Regions from separate parts of the Homo sapiens genome. Here all the other regions are linked to region 2. Evidence: fine-mapped expression QTL. A gene starts in region 2. Each other region holds a variant in brackets. All regions are shown on one strand. Distances are between the middles of the regions.

Evidence for each region.
Region 1: its variant is fine-mapped to the expression of ADTRP in whole blood (TOPMed, PIP above 0.99). The same link has a PIP of 0.9 or more in blood mononuclear cells.
Region 3: its variant is fine-mapped to the expression of ADTRP in whole blood (TOPMed, PIP above 0.99).

The regions. Positions count from the first base shown.
Region 1 is chr6:11,705,379-11,713,562 of GRCh38, reverse strand. It overlaps ADTRP (androgen dependent TFPI regulating protein), which reads left to right. Exons shown (of 6, transcript NM_032744.4): 6 at 1-40. It overlaps LOC340184 (a long non-coding RNA gene), which reads right to left. Exons shown (of 3, transcript XR_001743973.2): 3 at 3,164-3,480. LOC124900221 (small nucleolar RNA SNORA67) reads right to left here and starts at 3,744; the gene lies at 3,603-3,744. RefSeq lists an enhancer at 1,874-1,923. The variant C/T (reference allele first, on the strand shown) is at 3,242.
Region 2 is chr6:11,775,078-11,783,261 of GRCh38, reverse strand. It overlaps ADTRP (androgen dependent TFPI regulating protein), which reads left to right and starts at 4,459. Exons shown (of 6, transcript NM_032744.4): 1 at 4,459-4,655. The coding sequence starts at 4,503.
Region 3 is chr6:11,715,390-11,723,573 of GRCh38, reverse strand. ADTRP (androgen dependent TFPI regulating protein) reads left to right here. Exons shown (of 6, transcript NM_032744.4): 5 at 74-225. Among named protein-coding and RNA genes, the nearest start is that of ADTRP, 59 kb to the left of the region's middle. RefSeq lists an enhancer at 161-1,360. The variant C/T (reference allele first, on the strand shown) is at 3,952.

The DNA of each region.
Region 1 (8,184 bases), 70 kb after region 2:
TTTCCAGATGCTTAACAAGGATTCATGATCCCTGCTGTGATTTTCCTAGTGTTATTTTCCTGGCCTTTATTTGTGGGCACATTTTTTAAAGAACACAAATGGCAAATGGCTATTGGTGGGTAGACATATTTGAGTCTACTAGTATGTCACTAGGCTCATATGGGTTGGGGTGTGGACACTGAAGGAAATTGGACTTGGACTTCCCAACCTAACATTATGTAGGAGAAATCTGGTAAAAATGAGCAAGAGTGGTCTTGAAGGGTTACAGAAGAGGACAGAATATCTCAGGTGGGAAGGCAGCCTAAGGGAAGACCAGGGCAGGCACCAAGAAACCTGCTTAATTCCCACTTCTTTTTCTACTGTTCTGTTAATATGGGCCTCAAGTCTTTTCCAGTTGGAGCTGGGAATACCACCTCTTTCCCCACATCTACTGCTGCCTCTTCACTGCTCCAAGCACCTGGTCTCAGCAGGAGCTCAGAAACAGTTGCCACAGTGGAAATTCCCCAAACGTGAAGCCCTCGGGGGATCACCCAAATGTTCCACACCCCAGAGGTGACTCGGGCTGCGTAACTCTCAGTCACAGTAAGCTCTTGGTGGGGATGAGCCTGCAAATTTCTATTTGTGGCTTTACTGGCCCTAGGACCAAATTAAACCTTGATTGCAGCATGCCTGGCCATTGTGCAATATCTCTTCCAACACTAGAAATGTCTCGGAACAATTTCCCATTGAGCACATGCCTAAGCACACAAGGGCATGCTCGGTGCTGCAGTAGCTTAAGAAAAGATACACAACAAAACAATAACACACTGATTAAACATTTGCTAAAAGGTATATGGTATTTGCAGATTGCATAGCACTATGTTAGGCCCTTAATAGAAAATGACAACTATAGCAACCACATGATGATACCAGCAATATTTGTGTAGTGTCAAGTAATTCATCACCACTCCCACTTATTCTAGCCCACGGAAACTTCGTAAGTAGGAGATGAGTTACGTTCTCATTTTACAAATGAGCAAACTGAGTTTCTGAGGGTGGTGTGCTGGGAAAGGTTTAACAACCAGCTCTCTGGGGAAAAGATGTCAGGCTCTGATTGATAATGTGTGCTCATTTCCATGGTGTAAACACTCTCCCCATGGCCTTTTTCAAGCTGGCAGCACGTTGCTGAATGTACAGTTGGGAAGAGATGTGGACAACCACTTAGTCCTCGAGAGCCTGTTGTGCAAACTGGCTCCAGCACACCTCTGCGTTCAGAGCAGGGAAATGACAAGTCCAAGGTCACATGGATAGTTGACTCCTGAGCCCACTTTCCTTCCTCTTTCTTACAGAGCAAAGCAGTACCGGGTCATCCAAAAACTTTATTTAAAAAACAAAACAGAAATGTGTCCACATCTTGCAGAGCTGGACAAAAGAAGGTGGTCAAGAGATCCCAAATTGGTGGAAACTGTCCCCGTTACAGGAGGAGGAAGGACGCTGCCACCACTACCCCAGGGACTGGCCTATACTCATGCTTCTGTTCCAGTGTTGCTGTCTCACATTTGAAACCAATTTTGAATTTGGGTAGAAGATTCGTCTTGTTGCCTAAACAATGCCTTAACCCCATTCTCTCCCCAGAAGGGTCCTACATTTCTTAAGCTATTTTCAGCTCCTCCACACCTACTCACTTGCAATACTTGTCATAACAGGAAGCCAGTTTCATATACTGTAATCCCCAAACACATTGCACCCACACGTGGGGAGCGTGAGGGGCTGAGCGAGGAGCGAGGAGGCCAGGCCTTCCAAAAACTGGAGGGGCTGAGCACTGAGCCGCTCCCAAGGTGGGGCGTCTCCACTCCCAAGCCCAGGATTCAGAAGCCAGAATCCACATCCAGACATTCTTGTTTTCCTTTCTCATGCAGTTGCTGGTGACTTTTTTTTTTTTAATAAAGCATTTGAGTAGGCAGCAAAGCCAGTCAGAACTGTTTATTTATAGCTGTGGATATTCAATGCTGTATAAATTAGAAATCGTTGCTGAATGAGGCCCGCGCCCACTCATACACGCAGGGCCGCTATCTGTGAGTCCTTTCACAGGGTTTGACTGTACACGGTCTAAAATGGGAGAAAATGACATGCTCCGAGTCAAATGACGGAGTCACAGCTAAACGGCAAAGCAGAAAACCAGCAATTATTTTTCCCCAGCACAATATGGGGAGTACGACAGGTGCAATTATCCAATATTATTTAACAGTACCGGTTTGTGATGTAGGGAGAAAATAAAGGTTTCCGTGTCTTGGAGAGGAAAAAAAGAGAAAGAACATGCCTTGCAGCTCCTGTTTCTATGGATTAAGCTGGGTTATGTACATGGAAACTGGCCAGGATTCCAGAAGGGGAAGGGAGAACCGCCTGGCTCCCTGGCCCTTCCTCCCAGGAGGCTCTTGAGGAGCAGCACCACAGGGGGCTTCTGAGCAAAGGTGCCCCCAGCCTTGGGATACTGTGGCCTGAACACCCTCTTCCCCAGGCAATGGCTCCAGGTAAGACTGCGGGGAAGACTGGGTTTGCTGAGCCCCTGTCCGCTTAGAAACAAACTTCCCTCCTGCTTTTGACTCTCTTTCCCTCCATTGAACTACAATGAGGTCAAAGAGCGTGTGATGAGAAGGTGATCCACAAGGAATAACTTTCAGCCCCTTAACCAGGTCCCCTTTCCCACTTCCAGCACGTTATTATTCCTCCTCCCAAGCCTTTGCTTAAACTGGTCACACTCCCTAGAAAGACCCCTCTTCTTGTAGCTACTGTGGAATAAATAAGTCAACCTTCATGGCTTCCGACCTCACTGGAGTGCCACTTCCCAACTCTCTGAAAAAGCTTTTCCTTGCCCCTCCGGGGCATTTGGCCGGCTGCCTTCTCTCAGTTCTGCTAGTTAACAGCTAATCAGCTTCACACACTATGCCATTGCTCTCTCCTTCACGTATCCTCCTGGCTTCTGTTTCTGGAATGGTATGGAATGCCATGCCGACTAAAGAAAACAGTCAAGCTTTTAAAGAATTAAAGTTAGTTGTATTCAGAAGTCTTACTGAGGACTACAGACCAAGGCCTACAGCCTGGCAACAGCCTGTCAGATCCTATGAGACTGCTCCAGCCCAGGATTTCAGCCCACTGCTTACAGACAGGAAGTGGAGGTTCAGTACCTGCACAATCACATCAAATTTGCTCAGAATTTCCGTCGCAGCAGAATCCCATCAAGGCTTGGGTGTAAGAGCGCATC[C/T]GGTTGTAGATTACAGAGGCATAAACACTAACCCTGTTAAAGGTTTTGTCTTCAAAGCATCTTTCCAAACATCTTCACAGTCCAGGGCTTTTGTGAAATTCTGCTGGCAAGCAGAAGTGAGCAAAAGGTGCTTCTCATATTTGCTCCTTTGTCTCACAGCTGGAAAGAAGAGAGGCTTCAGAACCAGACCAGATCTGAGTTCAAATTCTGACTCCCATGGCTGGCTATCTGTATGGAACCTAGAGAAAATCAGTTACTTTTTAGAAAAATGTATTATTCACTTTTTATTTGTTTAAAAATATATAACAACTTCAGCATGTGAATAAGAGGACACAGTCTATCCAGAAGGAGCTTAAGTATGCTATGTAGGCCGCCAGAGGAACGCAAAAGAAGTAAGCATCCCCTGTTCCTTAAAGACCTTAGGCATGCCAGATTTTATTCCAACTTGCTACTGTCCTAAGAGAGGCACTAGTCAGCCCCTTGGAGAGAGACTCACCTTGGATAAAAATAGTTTACTCCTCTGAGCCTTGGTTCCTTGTCTGCAAAGTTAGATAATGATACCACCACAATTAAATAATAAGATTATTTAAAGTGGTGGATGCAAGTGCCTGGCTCCCAAGATCTCCGTCTGATATAGTTTGGGTGTTGTTTCCTCGAAATCTCGTGTTGAATCATGATACCCAGTGTTGGAGGTGGGGCCTGGTGGGAGGTGTTTGGATCATGGGAGTGGATTTCTCATGAATGATTTAATGCCATCTTCTTGGGGCTGGCCTCGCCATAGTGAGTTCTGGCGAGATCTGGTTGTCTAAAAGTGTGTGGCCCCTCCTCCTCCCATCTCTCTTGCTCCTGTTCTCACTATATAACGTGCCTGCTCCCCCTTCACCTTCTGCCGTGATTGTAAGCTTCCTGAGGCCTCCCCAGAAGCCCAGGAGATGCCAGCACCATTCTTCCTGTAAAGCCTGCAGAACTGTGAGCCAATCAAACCTCTTTTCTTTATAAATTACCCAGCTTCAGGTATTTCTTTATAGCAATGCAAGAATGGCCTAATTCACCATCCCACCTGCTTGATTGCAAACTCCCGGGATGAGGGGCCGTGTCTACCTCTTTATATCTCCAACAAAGCCTAACTCTGCACCATTAGAAAGTACTCAAAAATACAGGCGGACTTGAGGATTCCTTATAGCTTCTTAACCTTACAGGCATCATCACCAGTTATCTTCCACCCTAGGCTTCCCTGGAAGCTGATAGTCTCAACATTAGAGTTATTGTTTCATTTCAGATACTCTCTCCATCTTACATACCACAATTCTATTTACAGTGACGAGCAAATTGCAGTTTCATGTGGACTGGTAGTGAATGAACATTGATAGAATAGGACGCATAGCAGATACATTTGATGAAAAGGAGAAGGAGATGAGGAGTGGCCTGGAGGATAAATGGCTTGCGTGCAGGGAAGCTCTAGAGTGGATGACTAGATGGCCCTAATGACTCAAAGGAGAGCCTATGAGCTACTAGGGTCCCAGTCCGGAAGACTGATCCTTAAACAGGAGGTGGGGGGATGTTGAAGACAAACCTTGTTTACATCATAATTCATTTCACCTTAGGTGACTTCTCACCCCTTCCTGACGGATGGCAAGTGTTTATCATTAAGGCCCAGTCTAGTCTGACTAGCACATCATCGTTACCATGATGTCGTCAGCCTCTTGCATGGTGTAGTTATTTCGGGGCCATGAAAAGGGCCTCTGTTCTCACTGCCACCCTAAATATCTTGCTAATGTACAAAAAAATTCTTTCACCAATAAAGCCGCCCATTTCATATGGAGAGCCAGATTTAACATGTAAATACTTCTGAAAGAAGTGACCTATGAAACTCATGCATGTTCAATTCTCAGTGAAGGATATCTGATGATTTGAAAGCAAGTTTTAATGTGAGGGAGGGCGTGCTTGGCAGAGCGAAAATGAGGATATTGTTAGTAAAGGAACAGGTGCGGAAGGGTCAGCTGCAGACTCCAAGGACAAAACTTGCCTAGTTCATAATTTTTCACCGTGTGAGCTGCCAATAGATGCAGGTTATGATTGTTCTGCACCCCTCCCTGAGAGAGCTACTTGGTGGGTAGAGCACCCCAAAATGAAGTTGGCCCATGATTTTGGCAGCTGGTAGGTCAACTAAATTCTGCGTGCCCTTGGAGGGGTGGACAGAGGGGACAGAGCTGTGATGTGCCACTCTGTTTCCAGCCTTGATTATCTGGCTGGCACTACAGGAATTTAAACTTGCTTTATGTCTTTTATTTATTTATTTTTTGAGCCGGAGTCTCATTCTATCACCCAAGCTGGAGTGCAGTGGTGCAATCTCGGCTCACTGCAACCTCTGCCTCCCAGGTTCAAGCAATTCTCATGCTTCAGCCTCCCAAGAGGATGGAATTACAGGCATGTGCCATCATGCCCAGATAGTTTTTGTATTTTTAGTAGAGACGGGTTTTCACCATGTTGGCCAGGCTGGTCTTGAACTGCTGGCCTCAAGCAATCTGCTTGCCTCAGCCTCCCAAAGTGCTGAGATTACATGCGTGAGCCACCACGTCTGACCTGCTTTGTGTCTTGAGAGAGTAGTGTTGCGTTGCCACCATGCTTTTTTCCCACAATTTAAACGTGTGTTTGTTGGTAGCATAAATTAATCTTTCTTAGACTCTTAGGTTCTACATCCTCCAAATTTCAACATCATGGTTTTTGTTGTTGTTCAAATTACTATGATTGCTCATGAGTTTGTGTGTATGAGTGTGTGTGTGTGTGTGTGTGTGTGTGTTGTATTTCTGAAGTTCCGTGTAGATATTCAATGCCACTTTTTCATTTTCTCGAATTTATGTTGGAGAGTTGGTGCTACTCTCATCAGGGTCCTACGATGATTCTGGAAACAAAGACTGGATAACATGAATGGCTCCATGTAGAAGCTTTGGGTATTGATATTTCTCAAATTTCCCTCAAAATGCATGAGTATGACAGCTTTTCCTACCTATGAGTTGTTGCCATGCTTAAGAAGAAAGAAGACAGAGCAAAGAAAAAATTAGGATTCCTGGGCTCCTGAAGAACCTCAAGCAGTATTGAGATTCTCCAAGATCTCTTTTTATCCAGACATCTGTCTTACCAACCAGTCACAGAGATACTGAAGTGCTGAAGAGAGGTGGACACTTATTAAGGGCATATTTTGTGTTTCTTTGAGGACAGGAGTATGTCCTACTCACCACTGTATCTCCCTCATTGAGCACAGTGCGTACCATATGGTTGACTTTAAATGCATATGTGATGCTCAGATGGATTTAAGTAACACGCTCAGTGTCTGACAGTGGCATTGGAATTCAAATCAAGATCTATCTGACCCAAATGCCTCAAATAGTTTCCACTCCACCAACAGTGCTCAATCTTTCTTAAGTGATACCCTCAGAAATACATTTTACATCATAATCCAGTAGAAACACACACACTCATAACACACACACTTGTGTGAAAAGTTTCATAAACTCATACTTGCTTTTAATATGGGTGACATACCCCTTTATTTTCTAGGATATTGTTTCCTATTCCATTAAAATATGTCGTGACCATGAAATTGATGTCTTAATCCAATAATAGTGTTATTAAAAAATAATGAATTTCTTAATCCAATAAGAAATTAATGGATAGGGTTCAACTTAGTTCAGTAAGTTGGACAACACTGCACTCCACCACACTGTAGGGTTCGTTCATTCATTATACAGTGCCTACTAAATGTATGTCCCTGGCCATATGCATGCCATGGCCTGAGTGTAAGGACATGGTGGTCATCCACCTGGCATTTGCAGGCCTGTATGGAGGATTGCATGCTTTCATCTTGCCGCTCCTTTGGGACGCCAAGCCTGGCTTTCCCAGCTTCCTCTGTTAGCAGCTGCTCTGCTAGACTCAGCTCCTCTGAGATGCTAACAGGAAGAAGAAAAAGATCCCTTCCACCGTAAGAGCTTACAAAACCTTCCGCTGAGGCTTAAGTCTGGCCTGAGCAAATATATTTGGTTACACTTTAGGGATTTGTTTTCACTCAACACTAAATTTTATTAAGATTCTAATAATGAAGTTAGATGACATAGAGTTAGGAAAACATGTACTGTATGACTTTTACAATACCTTGCCAGGAATCTGGTACGTGATTCTGAAGACTCCCATCTAGACATGTTTTATTCCTTATTAAAATTTTTCTAGCTACATTCTAAAATGCACTTATGTTGTCATTTTATATATATACATTAACTGAACTTTGCCAATTTTTTTTTTTTTTTTTTGAGATGGAGTTTCACTCTTCTTGCCCAGGCTGGAGTGCAATGGCACAATCTCGGCTTACTGCAACCTCCGCCTCCTGGGTTCAAGTGATTCTCCTGCCTCAGCCTCCCGAGTCGCTGGGATTACAGGCGTGTGCCACCATGCCCAGCTAATTTTGTATTTTTAGTACAGATGGGGTTTCACCATGTTGGTCAGGCTGGTTTCGAGCTCCTGACCTCAGATGAATCCACCCACCCTGGCCTCCCAAAGTGCTGGGGTTACAGGCGTGAGGCACTGCACCCGGCAACTTTGCCAATTTTTAAAATCATGTGGTTAAATAAAATTCTCTTTCTTGCAAAATAGATTGCAGTATCACTGCCAGTATTTCTCCTTTTCCAGACTCATCCTGCCATCATGACCTTTTATTGCCGTCACATATCACCAAACTAAGAGGAAGAGGCCAAAAGAACTGCTGGACACCAATTCAGAGTTTTCCCACTCAGCAATGTGGATTTCCATGTAATCCTCAAATCAAGGGGAAGGAAAGAACCATTCCAAAATGCCCTGCCAATTCACAGAGGAACATATCTAAGTCCACTTGGGAACCATTTTAGACCCCAAGCATGGAAGACACGGATTATTTGCATGACTATATACACAAT
Region 2 (8,184 bases):
CTCGTTTTAGACGTATGGAGTTTGAGGCGTGTCTGTCTCCTTCAGGAGATTCCAACAGGTAGTCAAAGATGTGTTTGAAGCTTGGTGGGGATAGGGAGAGGGCCTGGACCAGAGGTATATAATTTGTGGTCACAAACTGGAAGGCAGTGGTAGAAATTATGATCATGGATAAAATCACTAGGGTGAGTATGTGTTGGGAGACGGACGGTAAGCTGGACCAGCTCTCTGGGGAATGCCAACACAGAAGGAGCTGGTGGAGGAAGAGGAGCTCATTAAACAGACTGAGAAGGATAGTAAGAGCATGTTGGGAGAATAAGCCTTGCTCATACGTGGCTTCCTTAGGGCTAGCTTCCCTGACGCCCTACCCACACCAGGTCTGATACTGCCATCCCCTCTAATAAGTCTGCTGTGTTTGTCCTTCACAGAAGTTGCCATAGTTATAAATTAACACTTGTTTTTGTTGTTGCTTAATGTTCATCTTTCCTGCTAAAATATAAGCTCCATGAGGGCAGGGTTTGCATCGCTCTTCTTCCTCGGGGAATCCCCAGGACCTAGCAGATAGCTGTTGCTTAATAAGTATTTGTGAAATTAAAGAATCATGTTGCGGACTCCCAGGGGGGTAGAGAGTTTCAAAGAAAGTCACTCTTAGTAACCAAGTGGCCTGTGTAGTATCCAAATCAAAGTATGAAATATGCTTATTTTTAAATGTTTAAAATTTCCTGTGTAAAATAATAAAAGTTTTGAACAATTCCTTCCCACTTCTCCTGGATATGACGTGAAGCCCTCAGATACTTGGAGAAAGGAAAAGGCAGACAAACAGCACGCTTAGTATGTATTAGTTTATAACGTGCAACTAAGAGGTGACATTCATTGCTCTCCAAAGCTCCACCTGGTCTCATGGTGGGGAACAGATGTTCAGGCTACTTCATGAAAATGGATCTGGTTATTCAACCAGGAACACAAATTATGATGTGAATATGGTTGCAATGTAGATTTTTCATTGGCAACAATTTTGTGAAAAGTTTATAAGAAAATGCAGATGTTGAATTAAGAAATAGTTTTATTTCTTAAAATATTAAAATATTTCTTAAGAAATAAAACTATTTCTTAATTCATAATCCTTAACTCATAATGTAATCCTTATATACATATATTACATGTAATTATTAAATCCTTATATACATATACATGTTATTTATTAAAATATCATTTTATTAATTATTAATATGTATTAAAATGATATTACATGTTATTAAATCCTTATATATTAATGTCATTATTTATTAAAATGCTAACAATTCATTGGATCCCAATGTAAAACACTAAAACTCTTACAAATAAATTTAAATAATTTTATCAATATTTATGAGAGGCCCCATCTGTGGGCAATGAGGCTAACGTAGAGAAAAAAACCATCTAGGTGGTGAAAGGCCAGTGTCCAGGTTTGGACACACACATCTCAGAGATTTGGGTCTTTGTCTTCCCCTCCTTTCCTACCTTTGCGTCAATCCTTACCCATCTGCAGACTTAGACTTGAGATTTTTTTTTGTATAAAGGAATAAAACCTCTAAATCAACAATGGTGTCTAAAATGAAAACACCCTTGGAGACATTCATTCATTCATATGTGCACCAAGTTTCAAAACATATTGATCCTTTTCTGAGATAATTTTCTGATGAGAGGAGAGAAGAATAAAAGGGACTCGGCCGGGCTCGGTGGCTCACGCCTGTAATCCCAGCACTTTGGGAGGCCGAGATGGGCGGATCACGAAGTCAGGAGATCGAGACCATCCTGGCTAACACGGTGAAACCCCGTCTCTACTAAAAATACAAAAAAAATTAGCCGGGCGTGGTGGCAGGCGCCTGTAGTCCCAGCTACTCGGGAGGCTGAGGCAGGAGAATGGCGTGAACCCGGGAGGCGGAGCTTGCAGTGAGCCGAGATCGCGCCACTGCACTCCAGCCTGGGCGACAGAGCGAGACTCCATCTCAAAAAAAAAAAAAGGGGCACTCAGTAGGGAGAGGAGAAATATCAAAGTGGGAGTCTGAGAGTGTGCAGAGCAACATTGTTCCTTTGTAGGCAGGTACACTGGTTGTATTAGGGTTCTCTAGAGGGACAGAACTAATAGGATGTATGTATATAAGAAGGGGAATTTATTAAGAAGTGACACACAATCACAACAACAGGCCGTCTACAAGTTGAGGAGCAAGAAAGCCAGTGGTGGATCAGTCCGAGTCTCAAAACCTCAAAATTAGAGAAGCCAACAGTGCAGCCTTCAGTCTGTGGCCAAAGGCCCGAAAGTCCCTGGCAAACCATTGGTATACATCTAGGAGTCCAAAAGCTGAAGAACTTGCAGTCCGATGTTCGAGGGCAGGAAGCATCCTGAGAGCATGGGAGAAAGATGAAGTCCGGAAGACTCAGCAAGTCTAGTCCTTCCACGTTCCTCTGCCTGCTTTATCCTAGCCACGCTGGCAGCTGATTAGATGGTGCCTACCCAGACTGAGGGTGGGTTTGCTTCTCCCAATCCACTGACTCAAATGTTAATCTCCTTTGGCAACACCCTCACAGACACACCCAGCAGCAATACTTTGCATCCTTCGAACCAATCAAGTTGACACTCAATATTAACCATCACACTGAGTTCAGACGGCAGCTCTGCCTCTTACAAAGTGTTGAACACATCCTTTTAGCAGATCGGGCTTCAATTTCCTCATCTGAAAATGTACTTAATTCGTAATAGTACTTACCTCATAGTGTTATTTAGAGTGCTAATCAGCTAATATGTGTAAAGCAACTGGAACAATGTTTAGCAAACAGTAAGTACTATAAAAGTATTAGCTTCTGTTATTATTTGCAATTTAGCCCAGGCTGTGGAGTTTTGTACAGAGTTTTATGTACCCATTTCCCAGATCACCCCTTCCTTTGAGAATGGTTTGCTATGGTCTATGTTTGTGTTCCCTGCAAATTCCTATGTTGAAATCTTAACTCCCAGGGTGATGGCATTAGGAGAGGGGAGCTTTCCGAGGTGATTAGGTCATGAGGGCAGCATCTCCATGAATGGGATTAGTGACCTTATAAAACAGGCCTCAGGGAGCTTGTTTGCCCCTTCTACCACATGAGGACTCAGCCAGAAGGCACTATTTATGAACCAGGAAACCGACCCACATTAAACACCAGGCACTCTGTCAGCATCTTGATGTTGGACTTCCAGCCTCCAGAACTGAGAAATAAATTTCTGTTGTTTCCAAGCTTCCCAGTTTACAGTATGTTGTTATAGCAGCCCCAACAGATGAAAAAAAAAAAAAAAAAAAAAAACATGGTTACAATGCAGAACTCCATGGCGGGCTCAGGTTTGCTCTCCTCCCATCTCCCAATCCTGATATTGGGAGTCTGTTGACTCTTAGGAGGTGGGTTTGTTTATGGTTTGTCCTCCTTGTCCAGCCTACAGTTCTTTCTGCTAGTACTTTTAAGCCCTGGTTAAGTCATTGAAAAGCACCAATTACAGACTTACATAACTGTGTCAGGAGCATTTCTCTGAGGGATTTGCTCACCCCTCGGAGTCAGTTGCCCAGGGAAACAAGCTGGCGATGTCACAAGGCATCCACTTCTAGTTCTTCCTCAGTTCCCTTCTGTGGAACCTGAGTCAGAGCCTAGTCCGGCATGCTGCCTAGCCCAGCCACGTCTCATCCTATTCATGGCAGAGCGGGGACTCTCACCCTCTCCCAGCAATGTCTAAAGTCAGGTATTTTGGGGTCATGGCCATAGTAAGGATGGTCTCCTGTGCTGCTTCTTCCCTCCCAGGGCACAGAAATGCCTATGCAAATGGAGTGTCTAGGACAGCCCTGGGTTACTCTTGGTTCTCTAGGGTATAGTTACAAAAGTGAAAAAAAAAAGAAAAGAAACCATTGGAGCTGCTCCCTGGAGGATCAAAGGTTGTTGCAGACTTTCTAGAATCTCAGAGACCTCAGGAGCAAAATTACAACACACTTTTCCTTTCTACTGTTCATGCCCTAAGCACACCCATGATCTGGTTTATCAACCTGCTCCTCCTTTTCTCAAGAGATAAGGTTGCAACTTCCTTGTTATATGCAAATGAAAAGAAAAGAGACTACAGCCATGGAAGTATTTCGCTAGATTTTCCTAGTATTTCATGCTTACTTCATTTAACCATGCCCCTGCCCCAGTGCCCTAGTGAAACAGTACAATGTACAGCTCTTGCATTGCTACCTGCCCTTCTCAAAGCCCACATGTTGTATTTTATGCAAATCTACAGATTATCTATCATTATCTAAATGCAGGCATCTGAAAACCAGCAGTAATCCTGCCTCTGAAGTTTATCAGGAAAGGAGCTTAAAAGAGAACCAAATTCAGCCTGTGTTGGAACTCTCAGTCCCAGAGGGGTGTGGTTTGTAGCTCTCCGGCCTGCTGTTGGACTTAGGCTGTGACCCACAGAAGGACGCCAGAAAGTACTCAAGACATTCACGGTGCCCCGGTCAGCACTCGCCATGACGAAGACTTCTACATGCATATACCACTTCCTTGTTCTGAGCTGGTATACTTTCCTCAATTATTACATCTCACAGGAAGGAAAAGACGAGGTGAAACCCAAAATCTTGGCAAATGGTGCAAGGTGGAAATATATGACGCTGCTTAATCTGGTAAGTCCATATGTCCGTACCAGGAACCGATCCATTTCTCTAGAATATCAGTGCTGCCACACATATCATCTTTGGATTTTATTAAATACACAATTTTGTTATTTGTCTTCCTTCTTCACCGTTTTGTGAGTTTTGGGTTTTTTGTTTACTTAACAATTTGCTCTGATAAACCCAATTTGGAAATTATCTATAGTTAACATTTCTATGCTGGCTCATTGTTAAATGCTCTCTTGAAAAAAAAAATCTCATCTTGGAGCTCTTTTCAGATGAGCTCAAAGAGGGGACCATGCTAATGGTTTCACCATGGGATTAACTACAAATGCAGGAGGCATTTTGAACTTTGCTTGGGGAAGTCTGTGAAGAGAAGGCAGAGTGGCGTATGGTGTGTAGGAAGTGTAATTTCCAATGAAGGAATAATGCCATTTTACAGCACACACAGACTAACAGATTTATCTAAGAAAAGCAAACACATTTTGCCATGTTCAGCTCCCACCTCAATTTTTTATAGGTTCAGGCTCCATCTTAAAGGACAAATCACCCAACCGAATGGCAAATACACATTTTCAACTATTTAAAAACCAATCTTATGACTTACTCCTTTCTTGTCTTCCTAACCTGGCTGACTGCATTCTGATGAAGTGTGAATGAATGGGAGAAAAGCAGATTATGAAAAATACTTTGAGGAATAGCTTAAAAAAATACTTTTAAAGTTAAAAGCTAATAATGGGGAATCATTTGGGGATGTGAATTAATATTTGAGGTTTTTGACTAAAATCTTGGGTGCCACATAAACATCTGTTTTCAGAATTGTAATCCTCATTTGACAAGCGGAGAATGTATGTGGTCAGAAACTGTGACACTCTGAAATGCTAAGGACGTGGAAATGGAGAGAGTTAAAATCAAAGAGGCCCAAAGTGGCTGCTTCCTCCTCACTGGTTGGTTAGTGGCCTCTTGATTTGGGCCTGAAAAATTGGAACCCTGAACACAGCTCTAGTGTCTTTGAAAACTTCAAGGTGACTACTTGTTTCAATCATGGAATTTTATGAGAAAAACAAACAGAAACAAAACAAAAAATGTTTTTTGTATAACTAGCAGTGCCACAGTAAACAACAACAACAAAAAACCACACACACACACGCGCATACACACACACCCCTAAGGTTTGTGTCTCTATTGGCTTTCTATGAAAAACAGTCCACTAAAAGGGAAGTGTGTCTGTAGTTAGGACTGACTTTCTAATAAAATCCAATTCCAGTATGAATGTCCTACCTCACACTATGTGTGGCTAAGAATAGATTTATCACCACACTCATTAACTAGCTCCCTTACCTCTTTGTATACACACACACACACACACACAACTGATCCTGACTTTTTAATTCTAGCTCACCTACATTTCCAAGAGCCCTTATTTTCCAAGAGTGAGAAAAGTCTCTTATCTTGTCAATGATACTATCATTTCCTAGTGTTAATCCCAATTTTGCTTCCCTGATTGATCAGCTACCAAATCCTATTAGTTTTTCCTTTTACTAAGTTCATCCTTTCTTCTTCAACCTTACTACTGTCTCTCTCATTCCAGGCTTATATTAAGCCTACCTGGATGACCATATCATCTCTTTACTGTCCATTCATGGTCCAATCCAGCCACTTAGATTCCAAATTAATCTTCTCAAAGCACTGGTTTTGGTTTGTTTTTTAATACCATGACCTGGATCTAAAAGTGTGGCCTGCCGCTCAGGAAACCACAGTGGCTCCCTCCTGCCTCATGGACCCAATGTCAAACTCCCGATTCAAGAGCTCACCTGCCCAACCAGCCTTTCGGGTTCCCTCTCCCTGGGAGGCTGGTCTCTTCTGCAGTAAGGACTGCGTCTCACTAGTATTGGTCCTTGGGCTTCCTGCTGTCACTTCTCTGCCCGGTGTTCTCTCTATCCTTAGAAGAAAGGCCTACTTACCTCTCTCCACCACATTGCTTCTTTCATAGAACATTGGGAATCACATATACTCCTCCCAAATCCTTGCTGACCAACTCCAGTCCAAATTTCCTTTTCCTTTCTCTGATTTTCACAGCATCTCTCAGTCTCTGCTGATTTATATGTAGTATTGTTTTCTAATTCCCTCTCTCCCTGCCATGTGAGTCTTAACATTCCAATCAAACTTTGGCTCCAAAACAGAAGTTTTTTTTAATCTTAGGTCCTTGCCAACCCTAACTGTCTATATTTCTACCTTGAATTCAGCACAGTGGCTGGCACAGGATACCCAGATATTAAAAAGCTGCGACTTGGTACGTTGACGTGACCTCAGCCTTTCTGCATCCTCAAGCAGTCCCTCTCTTCTGGTATCTTCTGGCCCTCGTAAATAAGCTGAGAGGGGCTTGCCTGTGGTGATTTTCTTTCTGAGCTCCATTAGGAGTCATCTTGAAAGTGTGACCTAATGAAATGCTTCCCAACTGGTGAAGATGGGTTGAGTGTATTTCAGAGGATCGATTTAATGTAGATTTCGAATATGTTGCTTAAGGTGAAATATTGGACCTGCAAATGTCTAGCTCTTGAGATTCATGGGCTGATTAATGGTTGTGTCTCCTAATGATTAATTAGTGTTCATTCATGACTAATTAATTGGTGGTTGTGTTTATTAAGTCATAAAGGTCTCACAACTTACGCTCACATTCTTATATTTATTTTACCTCACCTTGGGGAAGTTAGTATCCAGTCCTGATTACCAGAAAATTTACACCCCTCCTCGTAAACAGCTTGAATTTCTAATTGGCTGAGTATCATTTTTGTCCCCTTTGTAAGAGCAAAGCCCCCTTTTGTGCCAGTTGGCACTGTGAGCATTGCCCCAGTTCCCCTTGAAGCTATCCCAGGGGACTGGAAGGGGAGACAGACAGGAGACAGGAGACAGACACGAGTTGCACTGAGCTACTCCCCTGGGGTTGGTGGTAGTGGCTAAGGTGCCATTGAGAATTGGTCAGGGTGACCCATTTCTGACTAAGGAGAGTGAAGGTAGGAGAGGACAGATGGGAGTCTCTGCCTAATAAGAGAGTAAACTGACCTCAGTGAAGGGGCCACTGATTCCCTGCTGGGAGGGAGAGGTGGTATTTCACAATGGTTACAATTGCGATCTCTGGGATGGTACCTCAGTCCCACTGCTTACTGCCCCCGAGACCCTGGGCTAGGCACTTCTTTGTGTCTTTCATTTCCACGTCTGTCAAATAGAAATAAAAATAGTACCTAACCATAGGGTAGCCATGGGGGAGAAATGATCTGACAGGTGGGAAGCGCTCAGAATGGCGTCAGCAGGGTGTTAGGCAGTGGACAGTGGGGAGAGAAGATGGGGAGGTGATGGTGAACTTCTCTGGGTAGAGAAGGTGATGCAGGAGGGTGACTTAGTAGAACATCAGTCTCCTCACTGAGCACCTAGGTTGTTGCGGGGTGGAGGCCAGCAGGAGTCATCCACCCCCTTCCCCTTCATGGCTACTATTTCTCCCTCCCCGAGCTGCATGCCCCATCTTCCCAGCTGGAGAAGGACC
Region 3 (8,184 bases), 60 kb after region 2:
CATTAATCCTGATGAGAAAATGGCTTGTTTTTCTCCTCCTGCTATAACCACCACGACTTCTTATTTCCTGCAGCATCCTATGGCTCTACTTTGAGACGGGTACCTGGGTGTATCCTGTGTTTGCCAAACTCAGCCTCTTGGGTCTAGCAGCTTTCTTCTCTCTCAGCTACGTCTTCATCGCCAGCATCTACCTACTTGGAGAGAAGCTCAACCACTGGAAATGGGGTCAGTGTATTTCTTTCTTAGCTACAGATGCGCTTCTTCCGTGTCTGCCTCTCCCCTTCACCTGGAAACAGAAAGAAAAACTAGCCGCAAACAGAAGCAATGATGCTTACTGTCTTTGTCCAAAGTACTCAGACAGGTCCTGCCAAGAGGTCCTGCCAAGGCAAGAGGACAGCGTTGGGGGTGGGGCACTCTTTTAAAGGACCCCATCAAAGGATCTCCCCTCCTCCCCCAAACAATGTGTCATTTAACTTTAGAGCTAAAAATAATCTTCTTTAGAAAGCCCAGGACCTAGAGAACAAGGTATTACCATCCCTAGCATGAATAAATAAAATCAGGGGTCTCCCCCTAACCCAAGTGAGGGCTCCAGGGACACAAGCTTTGAAAATATCAAGGTTTCATTTTGAGGGAAGTGAGTCCAGATAGCCCTCTCAGCTCCTCCCACCTCCTCCCAACTCAGCAGTACCTCATTAGGCTGCTCCTCAGCCTTCCATAAGACATTTACCAGATGAAATCACATCCTAGACTTGAGATTGAAATCCTCATTCAGACAGAGTCTTCAGCAATGAGAATATGTCAGTAAGTTAAGCTTTCTCGTTATAGGTGGGTACAATCCTGTTGCTTCTTCCTAAGAAAAAAAAATCATCTTAACTTAGTTAATTTTAAAATGGAAGATTTCATTCTCCTTCCTGCTTCCTCTCTCCCCACCCCACCCCAGAATATTTTTTTATTGTTGGAAAAGTAACTACCAGAAAGTCAGGCTGTAAAACACCCATGACTTGCTTCCCTACCCCAGGAGAAGCGCAGGAACTCTACCCTGATTCTGTATATAAGGATGGCAAAGAGTCACACCCAGTCCCCCACATCACTCGCCCACATGCCATTCTGTTCTATCAAAATAGAGATGGCAGAAGTGCCATCTTCCGCCCAATCTATGAACTGGTGTGAAAACATAAGCCCGTGTATGCAAAAAAAACCTGACAGTTTCAGAAGGTTCAGTACCAGAGTGTGCGTTTCTGAGAGGAAGCTGAGACCCTGGAGAAATAAGCACGCAACTTGGATGTATCACATGTTTTCTACTCTTGGAGAATTTGACTGGTTTAAGAAACTCTCAAGGGCAAAATTCTCTTTGAAAGCAAACACTTAAAAAAATGGAATACTAAAAATTACTTCCCAATCAGGATTCCAAATCACAGAAAATTATCGCAAAAAAAAAAATGTGTTGACATTTCAGATGTGTTGACATATAATTCTAACTAGTTTTGGCTCCTTGAAGTTCTGGGTAAAGATTTCTGATGCCTCCCCAAATCTCTCTCTCTCTATATATATTTAAAGAAGCTTTAAGATATAGGAAGTACAGAGAAAAACTTGATTACTTAGAGCTTAGAGAACAATAACTTTTAAAATCAATTGTATTGAGTTCAATAATGTATTGAGTTAATTTTTAAATTGTTACTCTATGGTGAATTTTAAACATCCATTGAATTAAAAAACAAAATTATCATCATATTTATTATTATTGAAATTACTATTCTCAATACAACGTTCTTAACAAGCCTCATTGTTTAAGTACTGCATCCAATTTTTAACTATAATTAGGTCTCAATAAACAGATAAGCTGGCATCATATGGACCCTCAACTACCTCATGTACATGCAAGTTTTCAAGTAGAAAGAGACGATTGTAAATGACTGTACTTACCTCTCGAGGTCTTTCTAGATTTTTAACTTTTTAAAGAAGAGAAAGGGTAAAAGGTCCTATTTAACATCAGAATAAGATCAGAAATGTATTAAATCTTGAACAGATCTTTATTAATTATAAATAATTTAATACGAATTAAAGAAAAATTAGATTTGTTAAAGTTGCAATGCAGTGAACACTTTTACATTGCTGAAAGCTAAATAACCTATGTGAACACATTTCCCCATGTCCTATTCTACTGAAAACACTTTCTAAGGCTTCCCCCAATTGACTGAAGAAAGTCCACACCCTTGGAATGACACACAAGGGCCTCTGTGACCCAGTCCCTGCTTTGGCTTTTGCTCTTCTATATGTGTGCCCCAGTGGCACCAAACTGCTGGTTTTCCCTCCACGTTGATGTTGTTTCTTACGTCCACGGGATTCTGTGTCTCCTCCAGTCTTTGCCTGGTTCATACTCATGCATTTCAACACTCGCCTCTTCCAGGAAGCCTTCCCTGGTCAGCCCAGGTTGGACTTCATGCCCTTCCCAGTGCTTCCCCCTTTACCTCCCAGTCACCAGACTTACCATTTTATCATGACTGCGGTTTTACTACTGCTTTAGGGATTTGTTTTTCCACTAGACCTCGGGTGTCTTACGAATTAGGGGTATGTCTTGTTCATCTCAAGATCCACTATTTCCATTAGCTTTCTCGTTGCCTCAATCAGTGCAGACAATAGAATATCCAAGGGCCTTTTTTCCTAGGTGTAAAGTACAACTTTTTGCAAAGGTGTTCTGGAGACAGCAGATAAGGAGTGACTCTAATGGCTGTAGAGTATTGGGCAGGGAGTTTAAGGAGTATAGGAGGGTGATGACAAGGCGTACCAGTTAGAGAGTTGTTGAAGACATGCATGTTAGGGCAGAAAGTATTAAACAGGGGAAAGAGCACTGGAATAGGAATCAAGAAAGCCACGGTAGATCGAGACCATCCTGGCTAACACAGTGAAACCCCGTCTCTACTAAAAATACAAAAAATTAGCCGGGTGTGGTGGCGGGCGCCTGTAGTCCCAGCTACGCGGGAGGCTGAGGCAGGAGAATGGCATGAAACCAGGAGGCGGAGCTTGCAGTGAGCCGAGATCGCGCCACTGCACTCCAGCCTGGGTGACTGAGCAAGACTCCATCTCAAAAAAAAAGAAAAGGGTATATCCCTCACCTGGCCGCAAACCAACCATGTATTCTGTGGCAATGCACTTCAATTCCTCAGTGATCAGACAGCCTCTAAGTAGAGTGACCACCAAGCCCAGGTGGCCTGAGATGATCCCTGTCTATTCCTGCTGTGCCAGTATTCATAAGGTTTAATATTGTCTAGGCTTGGGCACTCAGTTGACTGGTTCCCCTACTAGTGAGCCTTTCTCCAGATCTTCAGTTCTGGAAACTTATAGATAGCCACGTATTCTGTCCAAAGCCAGAGCTAAGCCTATGTTTTCCCTCCTTCCACAGCCTGAGCCCCCTTTGATGACAGGAGAAATTCAAATGAATGCTTTAGGGAGGCAGTCGGGGGCTGTGGTTAGAAGAAAAGTTCTGGTGCCAAACTGCCTCAGTCTCTATCTTGGCCCTGCCACTTGTACCTGTGACACTGAGTGAGACACTGAAGGTCTCTGTGCCCCAGCTTTCTCTTGTCCTAGTGGAGATAATGCTAGTGGCCTCCTCCTGGGCTCACGGAGAACCTCAGATGACTTGCTGAGGATCTAGCGCCTACAGCAGGACCTGGCATACAGTTAGTCACTGCTGCTGGTCATCTTATTCTCCCTCATTCTCCCCTTTGAGTTGATGTATAAATTACCAGTTTCCCAGCTGCAAGTGATTAAAGGTAACAGCTACCCGATAGCAGACGGACAGAGATGATGCACGTCCTCAGGTACTTACAGCAAATAGGAGGTCAGGCTATTGGAGGCTAGAATCTGTTGGAATCTCTGCTTCTGAAATCCTGAGACACAACTGGAATCTCTGCTTCCAGTGGCCCAATTTGAAGTCACCAGCCAAGCACCAAG[C/T]GGTCAAGAACATCAGGCGAAGTATCAGTCAAGACCCATTCAATGTGACAGTAGCTCTCTAGCAGTAGTTCTCCACCTTGGCTTTTTACATCACAGAAACACTAGGGAAGTTTAAAAAATAATAATTCCCAGGCCTGCCTTAGACCAATTAGATCCATATCTCTAGAGATGGTGACTCGACATGGGTATTTTTTAAAGCTTCCCAGTTATTTTAACTTGCAATCGGGATCCGGAACCGCTGTTACAGAGCAACGCTTCTCAAACCTGTATAGGCCTCTGATGCTCATCAAAATGAGGATCTTGGGGAACCCGGAGATCTTGTTAAAGTGTGGATTCTGATTTAGTGGATCTGGGGTGCAGTTTGAGATTCTGCCCTTCTAACGCATACTCCAGACATACTGATGCTGCTGGTCTGAGGACAAGGCTCTATTACATCTCAGGACCCTGGACTCCTCCCAATGTGGATAATTCTGTCTACGGCATCCTTGTGCAGTGTGGTGCTCTCCTGAGTGGGCTGCTGGACTGAGAAGGGTGTTGGTGGTGATGGTCACAATAGCTGAACATCTACTCACTTTCTCCCTCCTCCTGTGCCACATCAGTGGGTGAATATGGACAAGAGAGCAAGAAGGACAGCAATAAGAAACCATACTGGGAATCACATGTTAAATTGGAAAGTGTATGATGAGGTCCTCCCAGGGCACTCAGTTGCAGGGAACTGGCTTTGAGCGTCAAGGAGGCAAGTGTTGTCATGGCCCACAGGAAGGTCCTTCAAGAATGCACTGAGGCTCAAAAAGCTCACAAGAGGTTCCTCAGGGCCACCTGGCCTGACCTGTCACCATCTCACTCCCTGCCCTGGGCTAGCCTTTCTGTGTCATGAGGCAGAGGGTTGGGCAAGCACAGAGTCAGTTACTGGGACCAGTCATCCCCCAAGAAAGATTCAATTTCTACTTTTTGGGAGGAGTTAGATGGAATGTTAACTTCAAACCATGATAGAAGCAGATGGGGGAAGCTGTCTCTGGCAAGACATTGAGAGCTTGGCTCACCATGACCATGACTGAACACCCAGGCATGCCCAGGGCAGGTTCTCTTCCACATTGACTGGGGGCAAGAGGCAATCAGGACATCCTATCAAAGGCTCCCTTCTCTGCCCCTTATGTGCTTAATTTTCTTTTTTTTCTTTGATGATTGATAGCACACAAGGATGCTGACACCAGCACACAAGCTCCTCAGGAAGAGAAAATCATCCCACAAGAGATATGGGGCACAGAAAGGGGCTAAACACCTCCAGGCCCAAATGGCAGGGCCTCTGCTATGTGGGGGTGGTTGGAGAGACAGTCAGCTTATCCAGGGCCTGTGACCCCTCTCCCTATGCCCCTTGATGGACACATGCCAGGAGTCAGGCTGTCCTTTGTCAGGGCCCCTAAGACCATAGGTCCTTCTCATCCTAAGGACAGACTGTAAGCTGAAAATTCCAGCCTGGCCAAGTGGCGCTGGGAGTGTGTCCTGGACAGAATGACATGGAAACTTTCTTTTAATATTATTTGCCATAAACCAGGTTTTTTAAAAGGCAGATTTTCTTGATGAAAGCTGCCTAGAGGCCATCTAATCCACCTCCTTGTTTTATTCATGAAGGAATTAGATGAGGTTTGTCTTATTAACTCTGCTTATTCCATAGCAAAAGAATTTTATCATGCGATGACTCCACAGGTACTTCTAAAGCATGGTCCCACTGGGGCAGCATTTAGTCAATGGCAAAAATTTATCTCCATTTTGCCTTTCTTGTCCTAACTTCATCTCCCTAAACTCAAAAAGAGCCCGCTGTGGATTACCCTCCCTGCCTCTTCCTCAGCCTCTTTCCCACAGGAGTTTCTCCAGCCAGCCCTCAGTTCCCTGTCCTCCCTGGACTTCTGCAGTGTGAACACAGGACTATCAGTGCTCAGATCTCATTTCTCTAACACCTGCTATCCCCCCAACCATCAATTTTCTTGCCCTTTTCTGAGTCAGCCCACTGAAACTAGGCAAATGTTCTTCAAATTTTCAATGCCTGGCATTCATTTTTGTGGTTGTAGATACATAGGTGTAAATCTTTGAGAATACTATGTTTTTATTTATCCTGATTTCTAACTATTGGAATAATAAGGCATATAATTATATATGGTATCTATGGTGATGTTGATTGAAACAATAATTTCTTGGCCATGCCTGCAGTTTCTGTTCAGATCTTGCAAAGATGGAGGCTAGAATCTGTTGGAATCTGCTTCCAGTGGCCCGATTGGAAGTCACCAGCCAAGCACCAACTGGTCAAGAATATCAGGTGAAATATCAGGGCTATAAAAATATTTCTAGCCCTTGCTACTATCTGACAGCAGTTAAAGGAATAAAACAAGTCGGGGTGAATCTAACTTCCTATCTGCCAACTAGGATACTTTCTACTGGGAAAAATGCTTCTCAATCAAGAAAATATTTATAATAAACATAATTTTCCAATTACAACTTAAAATCCATTTTGTGAATTTGGTTTGGGTAAGATATATGATCTATTATTAAGTCAACAGTTTCCTTATTTCCAGCTATGCGTTATAGAAACATGGTCAGAAGGCTGGGTGCGGTGGCTCACACCTGTAATCCCAGCACTTTGGGAGGCCGAGGCGGGTGGATCACTTGAGCTCAGGAGTTCAAGAGAAGCCTGGCCTACATGGTGAAACCCCATCTCTACTAAAAATACAAAAAAAAAAAAAAAAAGCTACGTGTGGTGGCGCACACCTGTAGTCCCAGCTACTCGGGAGGCTGAGAGGTGGGAGAAACACTTGAATCTGGGAGGCAGAGGTTGCAGTGAGCCAAGATCACACCACTGCCTTCCAGCCTGGGTGACAGAGGAAGACCCTGTCTCAAAAAAAAAAAAAGAAAAAGAAAAAGAAAAAAAGCATGGTCAGAGATAAATTTTGAAGACTTAAAGAAGCCTACAAACTGCTTAGCTCTGTGAGAATTCAAGACTAAGACCCGCTTGCCATTCCCAGCTGCTAGAAGCAAAAAGAAACATGATTTTTGCAACGTTCACGCCACATGAGTCCCTACAGAATAAAATGACTTTGGGAGCACCACAGAGACCCATTTGGGAACAGTGCCTTCTCTAGCATGTGGATGGGTATGTGGGCATTTCTGAGTGTTCCTCCTAGCTACTTGGTTTTGGACAGAGGACTCTAATCCAATGGAGGGAACCACCTGCTGTCCTCCCCCAGCAGAGCTTCATACCACCATGTCTGCTCCTGGGTGGCTTTTCTCCAAACCTTCGTGTTCTGTTGCATTTCTTAAATGGAGAAGGGAGTCTTCAGTCCTCAACACCTGGGGTGGAAGGACTGAGGTTATTATTACAGTTAGGCTTGAGGGCTTGGGGATTGGTAAACAACATGGATAAAAGAAAGTTTTAGGAATCCTCAGAGTGACTGCGGGGTAGAAATTTGAGAAGTTTATATTGACCAAGTTTATATTGTCCCTCTTGTATGTGAGCTGGTTATTTAATTGAAAAAGAATTCATTAAAGGCCCAGAGTATACTCTACAGAAAAAGGAGGTACTGTGCTTGTACTTATAGACCTAATGTAGAGAAGCCCTAACTAGGGAGGAGAGAATTCACATCAAAAATGGAAAATAAGGCCAAGGGTGGTGGCTCTTGCCTGTAATCCTAGCACTTTGGGAGGCTGAGATGGGAGGATCCCTTGTGGTGAGGCCAGGAGTTCAAGATCATCCTGAGCAACATAGTGAGACCCTGTATCTAATAAAAAAGCAAAAAAAAAAAAAAAAAAAAAAAAAAAAAAAAAGCTGGGCATGGTGGTGTGCACCTCTAGTGCCAACTAGTCAGGAGACTGAGGTTGGAGGACTTCAGCCCAGGAGCTCAAGGCCGCAGTGAGCTGAGATTGTGCCACCGTATTCCAGCCTGGGCAAAGACCTTGTCTCAAAAAAAAAAAAAAAAAAAAAAGGGAAAAACAGAAGAGAAAGAAGTAGACACACCAATGAAAACAACGTGAAATCCATAAAGCTTGATAAACAATAAGCCTCGGCTGAAGTGACTGGGGTAGTCTAGATTGATGAGGAGCAGACGAAGAAGACAGAGTTTTGATCTTGAAAATTTTGCATGAGATGAATACAAGGATAGCCATGAGGACTGCATGATCAAGAGGTGGCCATCCTAGGAAATCAGTGTAATTAAGGGGCCACAAACAGGACTTCAAGTCACC